2 linked regions of the Homo sapiens genome follow. The protein of the gene in region 1 purifies or fractionates together with the protein of each later gene. This does not show direct contact. Each region holds a gene or a part of one and is shown on either strand. Other genes may lie near its edges.

What was found.
Region 2: the proteins of DAW1 (region 1) and KMT5A purify together in Homo sapiens (affinity purification with mass spectrometry; one large-scale study listed by BioGRID and IntAct). This does not show direct contact.

Annotation. Positions count from the first base shown.
Region 1 is NC_000002.12:227,888,351-227,892,168, forward strand, and holds part of DAW1 (dynein assembly factor with WD repeat domains 1), read left to right. Parts: intron 1-1,505; coding exon 1,506-1,650; intron 1,651-2,904; coding exon 2,905-2,963; intron 2,964-3,818. UniProt on the Homo sapiens protein: Required for axonemal dynein assembly and ciliary motility in ciliated organs, including Kupffer's vesicle, during embryogenesis. Facilitates the onset of robust cilia motility during development.
Region 2 is NC_000012.12:123,393,871-123,397,688, forward strand, and holds part of KMT5A (N-lysine methyltransferase KMT5A), read left to right. Parts: intron 1-1,176; coding exon 1,177-1,396; intron 1,397-2,474; coding exon 2,475-2,562; intron 2,563-3,818. UniProt on the Homo sapiens protein: Protein-lysine N-methyltransferase that monomethylates both histones and non-histone proteins. Specifically monomethylates 'Lys-20' of histone H4 (H4K20me1).

The sequences.
Region 1 (3,818 bases):
TTTATTGGGCAGTGACACTTGTGACAGTCCAGGGCATGAAGCAGAAGCAGGATCAGGCGGGAGGAGCCATCTGACCTCGATGAAGAAGGCGGGACAACAGAATCTCTGCCAATCTGGAAGAGCTCAGGAGCAAAACTTGCCAGCTAGAGGAGTGCCTCACAGGGAGAAACGGCCAGGCTCTTGCTCTGCCCCTGCTCAGCTGTGGACGGAGAGCCACCAGAGAAGAGGCAGCCCTGGCCTGGAATGCCAAGGTACAGCCTGAAAGAGCTGCAGCTAGAAGCTGTCAGGCAACAAAGCTCCAACCCTGACTCTGGGCTTGATTCTTTCTTAAAGGTGGGGGAATCTGCATAGTGCATCTTCTGGACACGTGTGTGACATGATTTGTGAAATGGCTCTTTTTTGGATGCTTCATGGTGTATATACATTGATACCTTTTTTTGAACGAATATTATTCTGTGCCAGCAACATTTTTCAGAATTTCTATGAATTATTTGAATGCTAGAGAAAATTTGAATCTATCTGTATATTTTTCAGACCAGTTATCTTTCAGGGAAACAATATTTTAGTCTATAATAAATATTAATATTAGTCTTATGATGCTTTAAATTTATGGTTAGGCATTTTTCTCTTTTCCTAAAAATATTTTAAATCTAATCTTTCTGAACCTCAGTTTCTTCATCTCTAAAATAATTATGATAAAAGCATTACATTAGCAGATTGTTACAGGATTAAATAAGAGAACATATGTAAAGTGAAAAGTATGCTGCTGGGAACATTCAATACATGTTCATTCAAAAGAAACAGGAAAGAAAGAAAAAGAGCTCATGTTCAGAACTAGTATGGACTAGGCCTTCCTAGGTGTCTTCATTCATTTTGTGCTGCCATAAAAAGAAAGACCTGAAACAGGGTTATTTGTTTCTCGTAGTTCTGACTGAGAAATCCAAGATCAAGGCCCCTACAAGTTTGGCATCTGATGAGGGCTGCACTCTGCTTCCAGGATGGCACCTTGATGCTGCGTCTTCACATGGCAGAGGGCAGAAGGGCAAAAGGGATGAACTCTCTTTGTCAAGCCTTGTTATCAGGGCTTCTAATCCCATTCAGAAGGGCTCCACCATTGTGACTTAATTACCTATTCAGGCCGCACCTCTTAATGCTGTGACATTGGTGAACATGTTTCAGCATGAATTTTAGAGCGGACGCAAACATTCAAACCACAACACTAGGTGAGAACATTAGACTCTTGGCACACCCTCCATGAAACAAGCCTTAGCTTTGGAAAAATATGTTGTAGAAAATCCAAGCTTCTTGCTTTCCTGCCATCATCTATTTACTGATTTGTATGATCCTCCCCGCCCCACCCCCAGATATCTCTTGGGAAAGATAATGGTGTTTTTGACATTTTATAAATGTGCTTCATGAAGCAATACAATCAATTCTTCATGTAATATAGGTATATGCAAATTTTGACATAAAATAAAAGAAACTCTTTTTTGGGTGTATTTCAGCACTGATGTCAGTGCGTTAGTAGAAGAAATCCAGAAGGCAGAACCTCTACTCACAGCTTCACGAACAGAGCAAGTCAAACTTTTGATACAGAGGTTGCAAGAGAAACTCGGCCAGAACAGCAATCACACGTTCTATCTTTTTAAGGTAATGGATTTAAAAACAATCAGATAGAAGAATTTCAGTGAAATGATTGATATTTTATTAATTTTTCTTTCCCTAAAAATATTTTTTCATGAAAAAGGCATGTCAGTGATTGATTGTAGTGCCTCACATATGTTTGCTAAGATTGTCCCAATAATTATTTGTTAAATGAATGAGTGAAATCCAAAACACTTATTCCTTGAGAGGTTAAATAAAGATTTCAGCTCTTCATATAATGATAAATTTAAAGGGTTATTATTATTAAGATAGTTTTAAGTTATGGAATAACTAAAGCTTTTTTTCTAGTTAAAGTAACGTTAAGAAGTTGTGTTTTATGACAAATCAACATTTCGTATTTTCTGCTTTCATGTGAACTAAACCATATTTCAGTAAATTATTTATTTGTATGACATATAATTTTAATGTGATGTAAATATGCTTTTTAAATAGTTTTTTTGATGATTAAATATAGCAAATATAGTCGTTTAGTACTTCAAGGAAAGCTTTTAATTTTCCTTTGTCATTACCTTAGAATTACTTCATATTACACTGCTTTTATCTTTTATGATTTAAATATAATTATGATAGTAACATATAATTATTAGTTATAGACTCACCTGATACAAAATATCCAGGCATTCGTTTCTGGAAGAGGATGTTATAGTCTTGTAACATTTCTTTGTCCAGTAGGTGGCACTGTTTAATTTCAAATATGAGCTGTATAACTAGCGTGTCTCAATTTATTCTCCAAAGGGAACATTTTTGATGGTGAAAGTAGATGCTATTCATAGTTACATTTTGGTAACAGACATAACTTGGACTGTCCCAGCCCAGCCAATCACTCTTAATAGATTGTCCAATTTATGTATATGCATTCAATAAATATTCATTAAACATTCACTGTATGTTAGATGTTGTAGGGATTGAAAGATAAGGAAGACATATTCTGACACTAAAGGAGCTTCAGGATTCATAAAGTCATAATACATTGTCAAATCTTTATTGAAACATATTTAGTGTATTTCCTACATACCCAGTTTATACATGTATACAAAACCACATGCCATATGTAAAAGAAAATGTTACAAATTAGTGCTATCAATAAGATGCCACATAGCACTGTCTAAAGGTAAATCAGATATTGCCTGTTTCTGATGTATAATTAAGAAAAAATTGAATGTCTTCATTGGTTTGAAGTTATAACTAACAAATTTAATTTGGTTTGAGTCTAAAAAATGGTGTTTTCTTTCACTGAAGGTTCTCAAAGCACATATATTGCCACTGACTAATGTTGCACTTAACAAATCGGGCTCATGGTAAGATTCTCTTTTTATGTCTAATTTTTAGCAGTGAAACAAATTTCTGTGTTTATTTATCAAAGATTCCAGTTAGATAAGTACATAATATATTCATTTTTCTGATTTCAGTACTCCCTTGGATACTGAGGAGAAATATAAACCCTTTCTCCCACTCTTCTAATCTGAGTTTTCTGTCGTATTTGTGCTGCAGTGAATGGGAGGCATATTGGGTTCTCAGCAAATGTAGCTACTGAAGAACTCAACTCAGGAATGAGTCGGGCAGGGTGGCCTCATATCTAACTTGGTTGGTTGTGATCAGTCTATTCAGAGCAGGCACTTTCCATCTAGGTCAGTGATTTGGGGTATGGCAAACAGCAGCTTCAAGTCTCTGTTGAGAGCATGGCTGTGATCAGCTTGGGAGCTGACGTGCTAGGTAGGAGAGATGAGGGAGAAGTCTCGTCTTGACCTACAGACATAAAATAAACACAAACTAGACATAAAATAAGCAGTTTGCTAAGGCTTCCATAATAAGGTAGCACAAACTGAGTGGCTTACACAACCAAAATGTATTGTGTCACAGTTGGGGAGGTTAGAGGTCAGAGGTCAAGGTGTCATCAGGGTCAGTTCCTTCTGAGGCCTTGGGAAAGAAGCTGTTCCACAGCTCCTGTAGCTTCTGGTGGTTTGCTGGCAATCTTTGGTGTGGAGAAGCATCACCCTGAGCTCTGCCCTCATCTTCACATGGTTTTCCCTGTGCATGTCTGTGCCTATATGGCCTGTTCTTATAAGGATGTATTGAACTAGGGCCCACCCTACTGCGGCATGATCTCATCCTAACTTAATAATTTTTTTTTTTTGAGATGGAGTTTCACTCTT
Region 2 (3,818 bases), on another chromosome or scaffold:
GGACATTTGGGTTGTTTCCACTTTTTGGCTATTACAAATAAACTGTTACGTTCCTGCATAGATTTTTTTGGGGACATATGTTTTTAATTCTCTGGAATAGATGCCTAGGAGTGAAATTGCTGGGTCATATGGTAACTCTGTGTTTAACTTTTTGGGAAAATGTCAAACTGTTTCTAAAGTGGCTGCACCATTTTATATCTGTGAGCAGCGTACTATTTACTTAATTTTTTTTTCTTTTTTTTTTTTTTTTTGAGACAGAGTCTCACTCTTTCGCCCAGGTTGGAGTGCAATGGCATGATCTTAGCTCACTGCAACCTCCGCCTCCCAGGTTCAAGCAGTTCTCCTGCCTCAGCCTCCTGAGTAGCTGGGATTACAAGTGTCCGCCAGTACACTTGGCTAATTTTTGTATTTTTAGTAGAGATGGGGTTTACCATGTTGGCCAGGCTGGTCTTGAACTCCCGACCTCAGGTGATCCGCCAGCCTCGGCTTCCCAAAGTGCTGGGATTACAGGCAGGAGCCACTGTGTCCAGCCTATTTACTTAGTTATTTAAAAGTAAAACATTTTTTAAAAAGGTAAGCAGTTTTCCAACACTGTCACTCCACAAGTGTTTTAAGTGACAGATCATTGCAGTGTGTCTCCCGATACCCAGGCCAGTCTGCTGGGGCACCATGCTGAGAACTGCTGTGAACCTGGGGCTTCAACCCCACTAGAAGGGGACCTTCTTTTTCTTCGGAGTCTGAAATGAAGGGTGCCAGGCAGCTCTTGGGGAAGAGTTTCTGCTTTGTCACCTTACTCCTGTCCCCTAATGCTGTCCCAGCCTTCAGGAATGGAGCTTTTGATCTGAGTCTGCAACCTGATTCCTGAAAGCTATTGATCAAGCACCCTGCCAGCGTCTCCGTCTCTGGTGCCTCTCCCTCACAGGCTCTCTATCTCCCACGTCAAGATGCAAAAGCCTAAAACCTCTGCCCAGTGTCTTGGTCAAAAAATCGAGCTGGAGCTAGGCACTCCCCCTGTCATAGCCCATAGCGGACACGGGGCTTAACAGGCCAAGGGCACTCCTGCCTGACAAACCCAGGATCCTGTCTTCTCAAAGCTTGTCTTAGAATGCAGCTGGTCGTCTGGAAATTGAGAGACAGTACAGAATAAACCCGTCTTTCCCCCACCTCCGCCTGCAGAGAAAAGAAATGCTGGGAACGCAGTACGGAGCGCCATGAAGTCCGAGGAACAGAAGATCAAAGACGCCAGGAAAGGTCCCCTGGTACCTTTTCCAAACCAAAAATCTGAAGCAGCAGAACCTCCAAAAACTCCACCCTCATCTTGTGATTCCACCAATGCAGCCATCGCCAAGCAAGCCCTGAAAAAGCCCATCAAGGGCAAACAGGCCCCCCGAAAAAAGTAAGTGCCCCATTCAGTCCTCTTCCTAACGTGGAGCAGTTTGGTTCCTCTGATGCCAGGGAAGCCTGCTCAGGTGCCCATGGGGGTTCAGTGGCCACCTCTCAGCCTCTCTCATGTCAAAGACTCAGATGCCCCGAGTCATCAGCAGGGATGCCACTGTTTGTCAGTTTCTGGATCTGGCATGGGTCCAGAGTTCAAGAGCCTCTCCTTCCTCCCCTCCTTACCCACCCCAGCATAAGCAGCCTTTGTTTTTTAAATTTATTTTTTTTGTTTGTCTTTTTTGGTGATTGGTGTTTTGTGTTTTTTTTTTTTTTTTTTTGAGACAGAGTCTCTTGTTGCCCAGGCTGGAGTGCAATAGTGCGATCTCGGCTCACTGCAAACACCACCTCCTGGGTTCAAGCGATTCCCCTGCCTCAGCCTCCTGAGTAACTGGGATTACAGGTGCATGCCACCATGTCCCGCTTATTTTTGTATTTTTATTAGAGACAGGGTTTCACCATGTTGGTCAGGCTGGTCTCAAACTCCTGACCTCGTGATCTGCCTGCCTCAGCCTCCCAAAGTCCTGGGATTACAGGCGTGAACCACCATGCCCGACTGTTGTGTTTTTTGAGACAGGGTCTTATTCTGTCATCCAGGCTGGAGTGCAGTAGCTCACTGCAGCCTCAACCTCTCAGGACCAAGTGATCCTCCTACTTCAGCCTCCCGAGTAGTTGGGACCATAGGTGTGCACCACCATGCCTGGCTAATTTCTTTCCTTTTTTTAGAGACGGGGTTTTGCTGTGTTGCCTGAGTTGGTCTTGAACTCCTGGGCTCAAGTGATCCTCCCGCCTCAGCCTCCCAGAGTGTTGGCATTACAGGCATGAGGCACTGCGCCCAGCCAGCAGCCCGTCTTTGAAACTCCTCTGAGGCCCTCATGGGCAGGTGACTGAGTGACCTGCAGGCTCCAGTGGACAAAGGTGTTTAAGTGACATCATCTCCAAGGAGCTGTGTGCCTCCTCGGTGTGTGCCTTCTAAGGAGCTGTGTGCCTCCAGGTTTTCAGTCCTGATATTTATTTTCTCCTCTTCCCCTCTTACCCAGAGCTCAAGGAAAAACGCAACAGAATCGCAAACTTACGGATTTCTACCCTGTCCGAAGGAGCTCCAGGAAGAGCAAAGCCGAGCTGCAGGTAGTCACGTGCTTTAAATTCCAGTTTGTGGAGGGGCAGGGTGGCCCACCAAGCAGTGCTTGGCGTGTGCGTATGTGTGTGTCCTCAGCCTTGTTTTCGTCATCTTGGAGCAAGTCTCTTGGCCCCTCTGGACTTGGTTTTCTCCTGGATCTATCGGGGATCCTCACAAAGCTTGTCCTGCCTTTCTGCTGGGGTCACTGCAGGGCTTGGTTAAGACACTTGTGTGAAGGAACCTTGTGACTTGTAGCATGTGGCAGGGAAAGCCAGGTGTGACTCTGAAGGTGGATTTTCCAGGACTTGTTGGCAGAGCCATTGGGAGCCTGGGACTGTGGGAAAGGCTGCCTGTTCTTTCAGAGGCTTTTCTTGTCTGTTTTCTGGAAGTTTCCATGTTGTGGCCCAGGGTGTTAAACAGCAGTGGCTTGGGGCCACTTGCTGGTTGCGTAGCCTTGGGCCAGTCACTTACCCTGTCCATGCCTTGGCTCTCCAGTCTGTAAAATGGTACAATAATGTAGTACCTGCTAGAGCTGTGGTGAGCATTCAATAAATGTGGTCATGCAAGAGGAACCCTTAGAACCATGCTTGGCACTCAGTAAGTGCCAGCTAACTGTTACTATCGCCACCTCTGCTTCCTCAGTGTTGTCACTCCCGTCTGCTCTTTCCCACGCTGCTGCCATACTAGGAGCCTGCAGACCAGTGAGCAGCACCGGCTGGAAGGCCAGCTGGCCTATGCGGGCCTCCGCTGCCATGTTTGCAGAGGGTTGAGCTATGCGGCAGGCAGTCAATATTTGCTGCAGTGAGGTGTGGTTATTGCCTTTCTGTGAAGGAAACGCAGGGCATGGCAGGTCCCTCTGCTCTTCCCCCTCAGGGACACCTGGGGCTGCCCCTCTGCTCTCCCTCACCCCCACAGTGACCACCGGGTTGGGAGAGGTGCTCAGGATTGCATCCTACACAGAGAGGTGGGGACCCCGGCTTTGGCAGTTTCAGCATTTCAGCCCTCATGCGGACTCCTTCAGCGTTCTTGATGTTAAATGCGCAGATACACAGTGGTCTAGTATTCTTTCTCTTTTTCTTTTAATTGATGAAGCTTCATTTAAAAAAAATTTTTAAAAAGGTCCATTTTCTTCCCCACAGAGAGCAGCTTTGGTTTTATTGCCTGAAAAAGGCAATGTCTTTCAGCCAAGAATGAGCTGTTTAAAACATTTGTCAGCAGTGGGAGGCTGTGCTAGGTCACTTTTTTTTTTTTTTTTTTTTGAGAT